2 separate regions of the Homo sapiens genome follow, and region 2 is linked to region 1. Evidence: fine-mapped expression QTL. A gene starts in region 1. The other region holds a variant in brackets. All regions are shown on one strand. Distances are from middle to middle. Region 1 holds the start of LINC02878 (long intergenic non-protein coding RNA 2878). Region 2 overlaps IQANK1 (IQ motif and ankyrin repeat containing 1).

Evidence for each region. PIP is the estimated chance that this variant, and not a neighbour inherited with it, causes the effect. A credible set is the group of variants that fine-mapping cannot tell apart.
Region 2: its variant is the best candidate, but not a certain one, in a credible set for the expression of LINC02878 in whole blood (TOPMed, PIP 0.57).

The regions. Positions count from the first base shown.
Region 1 is chr8:143,694,866-143,699,383 of GRCh38, reverse strand. It overlaps LINC02878 (long intergenic non-protein coding RNA 2878), which reads right to left and starts at 2,269. Exons shown (of 2, transcript NR_015445.1): 1 at 1,743-2,269; 2 at 971-1,445. ZNF707 (zinc finger protein 707) reads right to left here. Exons shown (of 6, transcript NM_001100598.2): 6 at 3,999-4,518.
Region 2 is chr8:143,741,777-143,746,036 of GRCh38, reverse strand. The region is part of intron 3 of IQANK1 (IQ motif and ankyrin repeat containing 1); the gene reads right to left. Among named protein-coding and RNA genes, the nearest start is that of IQANK1, 9.8 kb to the right of the region's middle. The variant T/C (reference allele first, on the strand shown) is at 2,426.

The DNA of each region.
Region 1 (4,518 bases):
AGGTGGCTGGGCACAGTGGCTCATCCCTGTAATTCCAGCACTTTGGGAGGCCGAGACGGGTGGATCACGAGGTCAGGAGTTCAAGACCAGCCTGGCCAAGATGGTGAAACCCCGTCTCTACTGAAAACACAAAAATCAGCTGGGCGTGGTGGCGGGTGCCTGTAATCCCAGCTACTTGGGAGGCTGAGGCAGAGAATTGCTTGAACATGGACATGGTGGTCGTGGTCCCCGGTGGAGACACTGCAGCTGGAGGTGGGGTGAGTGGACTGAGCACCTTTGAAGTAGTGTGATCAGAAGACGAGGCTGGCCGACCCCTCTGTGGAAAGGACACAGCCCTCCAGCTGTGGCAATGGGTGTGCAGGCCACAGGCTCACCTGTCCTAAGGCGGGGCTGCTCTGCCTTTGTTTGGATTGTGTGTGGTATCATGGCTCTCCTGCAGTCAGGCTGCCACACTTCCTAAGTGTGCACGTGTGGGGAGGGGAGGAGTGGGGAGTGTGAGTGATTCTGGGTGCTCAGGTGCATGACAGCTGGTCTCCCCTCATGGAGTTACCACTGTAACCGGACTCCAGGCTTCCACCATCGGCCCTCGAATTTTACATAGGATGGTTGGCCCCGGGAAAAGGAGCCTCTGAAGTTTTAAAATCCAATATGGCTCCAACATTAAGCTCACACTGGGGACCAGCTCAAAACCCACCCATTTCACATTCCCCAAAACGTTTCGTTTGGTGGGCCTGTGATTTAGCTCCCAAGAGGTCACAGATACAAACACAACGAAGCGAGCTATTAGGGCTGGACATGCACTCAGTGACGCAGCTGTCCCTCCACCCTGGCCCGGGTCAGGTTCTGCCAACTCCACACGCACACTCTTCGTTTGAAGGGTCCCAATGGGTTTGAGGACCTGTAAGACTGGTACGCACGGCGGACCCCATGAACACCCAGAACAACAGTGAGTAGAGTTTATGATACGTTGTAACTAGAATGACCCCAAATATCTTTATTTACTTGGCATTGTACTTCCCAAAGAAGAATATTGCAGCCACTGGGCCTCCCTTCAGAGTGCAGAGAGGCAGCTCCAGGAGCTGAGCCTGCTGGGATGCAACTCCTCCTCCTAGCACCATGGACTCCTTCATCTTTCAGTCAAGGCTGCCAGTGGCTACCACGTGGCCCTCCCATTCCTGGAGCTCTCAGCTGCATCCGCCACCTGCTCTCTCGACGGACTTTTTTTTTTTTGAGATGGAGTCTCACTCTGTCGCCCAGGCTGGAGTGCAGTGGCACGATCTTGGCTCACTACAACCTCCGCCTCCCAGGTTCAAGCAATTCTCCTGCCTCAGACTCCTGAGAAGCTGGGATTACAGGCGGCAGCTACCATGCCCTGCTAATCTTGGTGGACTTTACACTGGACACATGTGTGCTGAGCGCTAACACAAAGGCCAGGCAAGTGTCCCCTGGAGACAGAGGGGTGGAAGGCTAGGTCACAGGCATGGCTGTCAACGGACCCTGCTGTGCACCCATTCTGGCCGCGAAGTAGCTTCATGCATTCTCTGCCCAAGATAAATGCAGAGAAAACTCGGCTCTACAGGCTCACAGGGAGTGACGGCTGCTGGCCCCAGGAAGGAAGATGCTCCTTACGGGACACCTGCTGTGAGCCCCTTCTGTCACCCCACCCCCGCCTGGGTGGTGAGGAGGCCAACAGGGCAAGATGCAGAGCCTCCCGGCCCCTCACACCCCCATGGGCTCCTCACCACCATTCTCTCCCCAGGCCTTTTCTGTGGACCTGACCTTCTTCAGCGACCCAGGAGGCAGGAAGGGAAGCCTGAGTGTTAGAAGGAAAGACAACTAAGAGCAGCAGCCTGACCGCAGCTGAGCACGGTCGTGCTCCTCCCTGGGGAAGTGCCAAGGGAGGGACCCCCTGCTCTACCCGGAGCCCTGGAGCCCTGCTAAGCAGGGTGGAAAGCCTGCAGCCCGGGGGGTACCGCGACTGTGGCCCAACCATCCAGTGTGTGAGCCCTGGATGATGAGGCCACCAAGAGCAAGGCAGCCCGCTTGGACAACTGACCATCATCTGACGAGGCAGCGCATCACCCACGTCTCTGCTGTTCACATTTAATCCTGCACAAGAGCGTCACAAAGTGACAGCATTGTGAGGGACTAACGACCAGGCACAGGTGACCCTGGACGCGGCCAGTGGCTTCCTGCAGGGCGCTCAAAACCCAAGTCCTTATGATCCGCCGCATCTACTGCCGAGACACCAGCTGCTCCGTCCCCACCTGTGCTCAAGCACCTGAAGGCCCTTCCAACGGCGCCCGCTGGGCAGGGGACAAACCAGACACGAAACACACATGCGCTTTTACCAGCCTGGACTCTGTAAGAGAAAGGCACCCCCATATCCCCCCTGGGGAGATTTCCACTTATCCTGCAGGGCCCTCACTGCCTCACCGGGCTCTGCCAGGGCCTGCCCCGCAGGGGCAAGTGCTTTTCCTACACAGGGTCTGTGGGCCAGGACAGACCCAGAGGAGCTTCTGCTACGGGCTGAATGGTCACTCTGAAATTCCCATGTGGAAGCCCTAGGCCCGACGTGATGGTATGAGGAGGTCTCTGGGAGGTGATTTGGCTTCGATGGGGTGATAGGGGTCATGGGATCCGGGCCCTCACAAGGAAAAGGTGACACCAAAGCCCCTCCTGACATGAGGATGCCTCTGAACCAGGAGGCGCTCGCCGGAAACGGACCCTGTTGGCACCTCTACCTCGGACTTCCAGCCTGCAGAGCTGGAGAGAATAAACCTGTGTTGTCTGTGGGGCTGCCGGTGGTGTCCTGGTAAGGCAGCCCTGTGACTCCATGACCGACAGCTGCTCTCTACAATCTTCCGTGAGCACGAAGAAACTCATACTCATGCTGCAAATAAAAGATTTGGGGAACTTTTAAGCACACCAACCTCCCGGCTTCAACAGCTGTCAACATTCAGCCAATACTGTTGTGTCTTTCTCCTCTTTATTAGAATCGTAAAGTACATCCCAGGCGCCACGTCATTTCCCCACAAAGACGTCCAAATGCATCTGAGTGAGGATTCCTCCGTAACCCTGTGTCACCATCACCGCTAGCAGCCAATTCCGCACCCCCACCCGACTCACGGCCCACCCACCCGACTCACGGCCCACCCACGCAACTCACGGCCCACCACGCAACTCACGGCCACCCACCCGACTCACAGCCCACCCACCCGACTCACGGCCACCCACACGACTCAGTCCATCCACCCGACTCACGGCCCACCCACCCGACTCAGTCCATCCACCCGACTCACGGCCCACCCACCCGACTCAGTCCATCCACCCGACTCACGGCCCACCCACCCGACTCAGTCCATCCACCCGACTCACGGCCCACCCACCCGACTCAGTCCATCCACCCGACTCACGGCCCACCCACCCGACTCAGTCCATCCACCCGACTCACGGCCCACCCACCCGACTCAGTCCATCCACCCGACTCACGGCCCACCCACCCGACTCAGTCCATCCACCCGACTCACGGCCTACCCACCCGACTCACGGCCCGTGCCCACATTTCCATGATTGTCTCAAAAGTGACTTCGCACTCGGTTTGCTCCTACCAGGGTCACACACAGCCCCCTCGGCCTTTCTGCGTGCCCGTCTTCCCACAGAAACGTCGCCGTCTGGTGGCATCTCCAGCCGGATCTGGCTCAGGGCTTCCTCTCGGTGTGTTCAACCTTCTCCTCATCCCCCTATTTCTTGTAAACTCGTTTCTGATTCCAACATTACATATGCATCTGTTGGCTGGAATTTTTTTTTTGAGACGGAGTTTCACTCTTACTGCCCAGGCTGGAGTGCAATGGCGCAACCTTGGCTCACCACAACCTCCACCTCCCGGATTCAAACGATTCTCCTGCCTCAGCCTCCCGAGTAGCTGGGATTTCAGGCGTGAGCCACCACGCCTGGCCTGGCTGCAATTCTTAAAGAAAAACAGGCAAAAGCAAAAATAATTGGCTAACCTGAAACACGGCAGTGTCCCGACCCATTCCCACGGGGGTCTTCCCTTGGGAACACCACTGGCAGATTTTTATTTCTGGCTGGATAAGCAGACACCTTAAGTTTAAAACAAAGAGGTCACCTCTTCCCCCACGAAATGCGATGTGGTGGATATGGCCACCTCACTGCCCTGAGACCCAACTTGATCTCCCAACTCCAGGTGCATGACCCAGGCTCTGACCAACAGAGCTGGGTGGAGGCCGTTCCTGCAGCACTGGGGGTGGCCCTGACCTAACCACCACTCCTAATCCTTGAATGAGGTTCAGTATTACAAAGGCTCTTGTTTCTACGGCCCAGCGCAGAGGCTGCAGGAGGGTCTTTGCCTCTGTGCAATGCTCACAGCTGCCTCGCCCAAGACAGAGACAAGAAGGGAAGCCAGACCGGGCAGCCAGCATGGGGTGCAGAGCCAGGAAGGAAAGGCCCAGCAGACGGCGACTCGGGGCCAGGGTGGAGTCCCTGAGCCAGACGGCT
Region 2 (4,260 bases), 47 kb before region 1:
TGGCTCACGCCTTTAATCCCAGCACTTTGGGAGGCCGAGGTGGGAGGATTGCTTGAGGCCAGGAGTTCAATACTAGCCTGGGCAACATAGTGAGACCCCATCTCTACAAAATAAAAAAATAGCCGGGGCATGGTGCTGTGTGCCTATAGTCCTAGCTACTCAGGAGGCTGAGGTTGGAGCACTGCTTGAGCCCAAGAGTTTGAGGCTGCACTGAGCCATGATCGCTGCACTGAGGCATGATCACAACACTGCACTCCATCCTGGGTGACAGAGAAAGACCCTGTCTCAAACAACAACAATAAGAAATGTATGAATGAGGCTGGGTGTGGTGGCTGAAGCCTGTAATCCCAGCACTTTGGGAGGCTGAGGGCAGATCACCTGAGGTCAGGAATTTGAGACCAGCCTGGGCAACATGATGAAACCCCATCTCTACTAAAAATACAAAAATTAGCTGGGCATGGTGGCACACACCTGCTATCCCAGCTACCTGGGAGGCTGAGGCAAGAGAATCGCTTGAACCCAGGAGGCGGAGGTTGCAATGAGCCGAGATCGCTCCACTGCACTCCAGCCTGGGCGACAGAGCGAGACTCCATCTCAAAAAGAAAAAAAAAAGGAAGAAATGCACGAATGAGTGAACTCCTGGCAGGAGCTCTGTGGTGACTGTCTTCTGTAAGCCCGGGTTGATATTGGGGAAAACAGCCAGGAAACTGATTGCCCTGATATCAACTGGGATGTGGGATTCTGGACAAGGTCAGTAGGGTGTTGCTGACCCAGTGAGTATGATCAGAGACACGTCAGGCTCTGCCAGCCGGACAGCAGCTGCCACAGTCTCTCACCCAGTTTCCAGATTTGAGTGAAATTCAGACTCACAGCTGCCAAACTGAAGAGGAGGCTGGAAGCCCTAGGGCGTGCGGCTCTCCCAATACAAAGCATGCCAACCACTCCCACCAGTTACGCTCCTACTCTGTCCCCAAAGGAGTCTGTGGCCATTTGCCAGGGTTGTGTCACCAACATAGAGGGGTACAGAGAGGCTTTTCGAGGACGGGAACATGGTGTGTAGCCGGACACTGACATTGACGCCAGGACTTTGACAAGATCACCACACCCCTCTGTTTACTGAAGTCATGGAAGGCACTGTGGCCCAAGTCCATCTCTAGTGGGTCCAGTGGGTCTGTAGGTCTGCCCTGTTTATTGGGATACACATTCTTAGCTGCCAGCTGAATGCTCACATTGGCTCCTTGGCCGGAGGAGTAAGGGTTGTTACGGCAGAAAGAACCAAGTGAGAGCCTGTGGAACTTCCTCCCTCCAGCAAGACAGTGAGCCTGATAGAAGGAGTGCTTTGCTTGAGGAATTGCAGAGGTTAACACCAACATCAGAGACCAGGGAAGCAGGTGTGGTGGTTTCCATCTCCATTAGATTCACCTGCCTGGCCTTTGCAAAAACAAATTAATAATGACCGTGGGTGATGGACTGCAGTCAACTTGAAGAGGCAGCAGGGCCAGTGAGAGCTGCCACGCCGCGAGTGGTCTTTTTGCTGCAGCCGACCAACATAGCCTCTGTACTTGGTGTGTGACTAGCATCTTGGCAAATTCTTTCTTCTCAATATCCTCGCTCGGGAGGGTCAGAAGCAGTTCATCTTCACCGGCAGACAGCAGCACTCCTTCCCTGCCTCGTCTTGGGGCTGTGGCTGCTCCTGGGTTTTCTGGTGGGCGGAATAATGTCCCCCAAAGATGTCCACCTCCTGCCCCCTGGAACTTGTGAATACTTGACGTGATTCAGCAAAAAGAGAATGGAGACTGCAGATGAACTAAGGTTGCTAATCAGCTGACCTTAGGCCAGGAAGAACATCCCAGATTACCCGGGGAGATCCAATGCAATCACGAGGGTCCATGAAAGTGGAAAAGGAGCCAGGCCTGGTGGCTCACGCCTGTAATCCCAGCACTTTGGGAGGCTGAGACGGGCGGATCACAAGGTCAAGAGATCGAGACCATCCTGGCCAACATGGTGAAACCCTGTCTCTACTAAAAACACAAAAACTAGCTGGGTGTGGTGGTGGGTGCCTGTAGTCCCAGCTACTCAGGAGGCTGAGGCAGGAGAATTGCCTGAACCTGGGAGGCGGAGGTAGCAGTGAGCCAAGCCCCAGTGCACTCCAGCCTGGCAACAGAGCGAAACTCCATCTCAAAAAAAAAAGAAAAAGAATCCAATAAGTATTCAGAAACTAAAAACTACAATATATGAAACTAATGTTTCTGATCTCACTTATCTGTAGATGGCAGCATAATTATTCACACAACAAAATCATTTTTTAAATATGCACTGTGAGGCAGATGCCGTTTCAGTCACTTCTGAAGCAGGCTTCGTGTTCTGGTGTTAAATGTCCTGCCAGATCTACGGAAGTTCAGCTTAAGGAACACACCCAACACGA[T/C]ACATTTCCAAGTGCAATCGTAATTCCACTGAGCAAGCGAGGAGGGGACGCATGTCTAAATGTTAACAAAGATGCACTCTCGAGGTGTTCCATCTTATCAGCAAAATCCAGACTGGAAGACTCAAGTCAAACAGCCCAAGTCCTTGAGAACAAAAATTGTAAAGACGAAAAAAAGATGGAGAAAAACCCATACAGTTATACTGAAAGAGGCTTGCCAGACGTGGGAGCACACACCTGTAGTCCCAGCTACTCAGGCTGAGGCAGGAGGATCACTTAAGCCCAGCAGTTGGAGGTTGCAGTGAGCTAGGGTTACACCTGGGAATAGCCCCTGAACTCCAGCCTGGGCAAGACAGCTGACCCTGTCTCAAAAAAAAACAAAACGGAACAAAACAAAAACCCAAACCAAAAACAGTGGAAGAGGGAGGCAGAAGTGGAGAGCCAGAGGGAAGGAAACCCACAGCACGGCTGGCTTTCCTCGACGTCAGCCTGGCAAGGCCGTGCCCGGTGGCTACCCTGCAGAGCTGGTAGATGTGGTGGCTGCTATAGCAGCAACGGGACACAGGCACAGGGCCCCCCCATCTCCTGGGCATCTCAATGGTCCCAGGAGTTCTGGGGGGTGGGGGATAAAGCACCCGGTGAAGGGGTCCATAGATCTAGGCTGTGCCGGGACACTGTAGGGCAAAAGATAGATTCTGGCACCTGTGCCTCCGTCCAGCAAGAAAGACCCCGTGCTTGCCAGGCCCCTTAGCACCGTGACAGCAGCACAGGCCATGTTTGGGACCATCCCCAGTGTGGCCCAGGGCTGCTGGCTAAGGTGAAAGTAGCCAGGCTGCTTGGGCCACACTGTCTGGTTGGAGGATCCCGTGTGCAGGAGGTAGGGTGGTTGTGTATCCTCTGGCAGGCCCCCCTTTGGAGCTTCCCGCAGGTTTCTGGGGCTCTGGGGCTCAGCCACACCTTCCTGGTGGAGGCTATTCTTCTTTTGGAAAGCAGCTCCTGGAATGCTGCCTTCCCAGGCTGGGTTTCCCAGCTCCACATCACACCCCTGGGCAGCCCAGCAGCCATCTATTGCGTGGTGGAAAAGGTGTTTGTGGTGTTTGTGGGGCCCAGCCCAGATGACACAGGCGAGTCCCGGGGCCCAAGTGTCTACATCGCATTCGCCCCTTTTGCAGCTCAGATGCCTCCTGGGGAGGGCACCAATGCAGAGGAAAGGCTGGGAAAGGCTCCCACACCAACTCCAGCCTGACCTCCCCCGCATGCTGTAGTCCCAAGCAGGGAGATCCTGGCGGGCAGCAGCAAGGGAAGCCCCCGGGGGGCACCTCATCACCCACTTCCTGTGGGTGGGAAGAGTCACTTGAGCGCTGTGTATCACTGACTCCGGACACCAGTGAGGGCTGGGCTGGCTCTCCAGGGCCTGAAGTGAACGAGCCCGGGACAGTGGTGATGCGGACAGCTGGGAAAGGCTTGGGGGTGGCTCTGTGAGGAGCAGGGAACACCGAGCTCAAAGGGAGGTTCTGCATCCTGTGGGGACGCTCCTAGAGAGAGTCGGCCGCAGCGAGGGCACAGACAGGCTCGTGGACATCACGACTGCACCATGGACGTCAGCCAGCAGGCCCCGGGGCAGAGTGGCATGGGGGCAGGAATGGTGGTTACACCAACGGCATGAGCTCATTTTCCAAGATGGATCTAGAGCAGGTCCCACCCACGCAGAACAAGCCCTCTTTACAGATCACCAGACGTGGGGAGAGCAGGGCTGCAGGCCAATAAGAGGAGGCTGGGGAAGGCGTGCTCTGTCTGGATGGACTTCCTGGAATAGCCTCGAGTGCAAAAATAGCGTG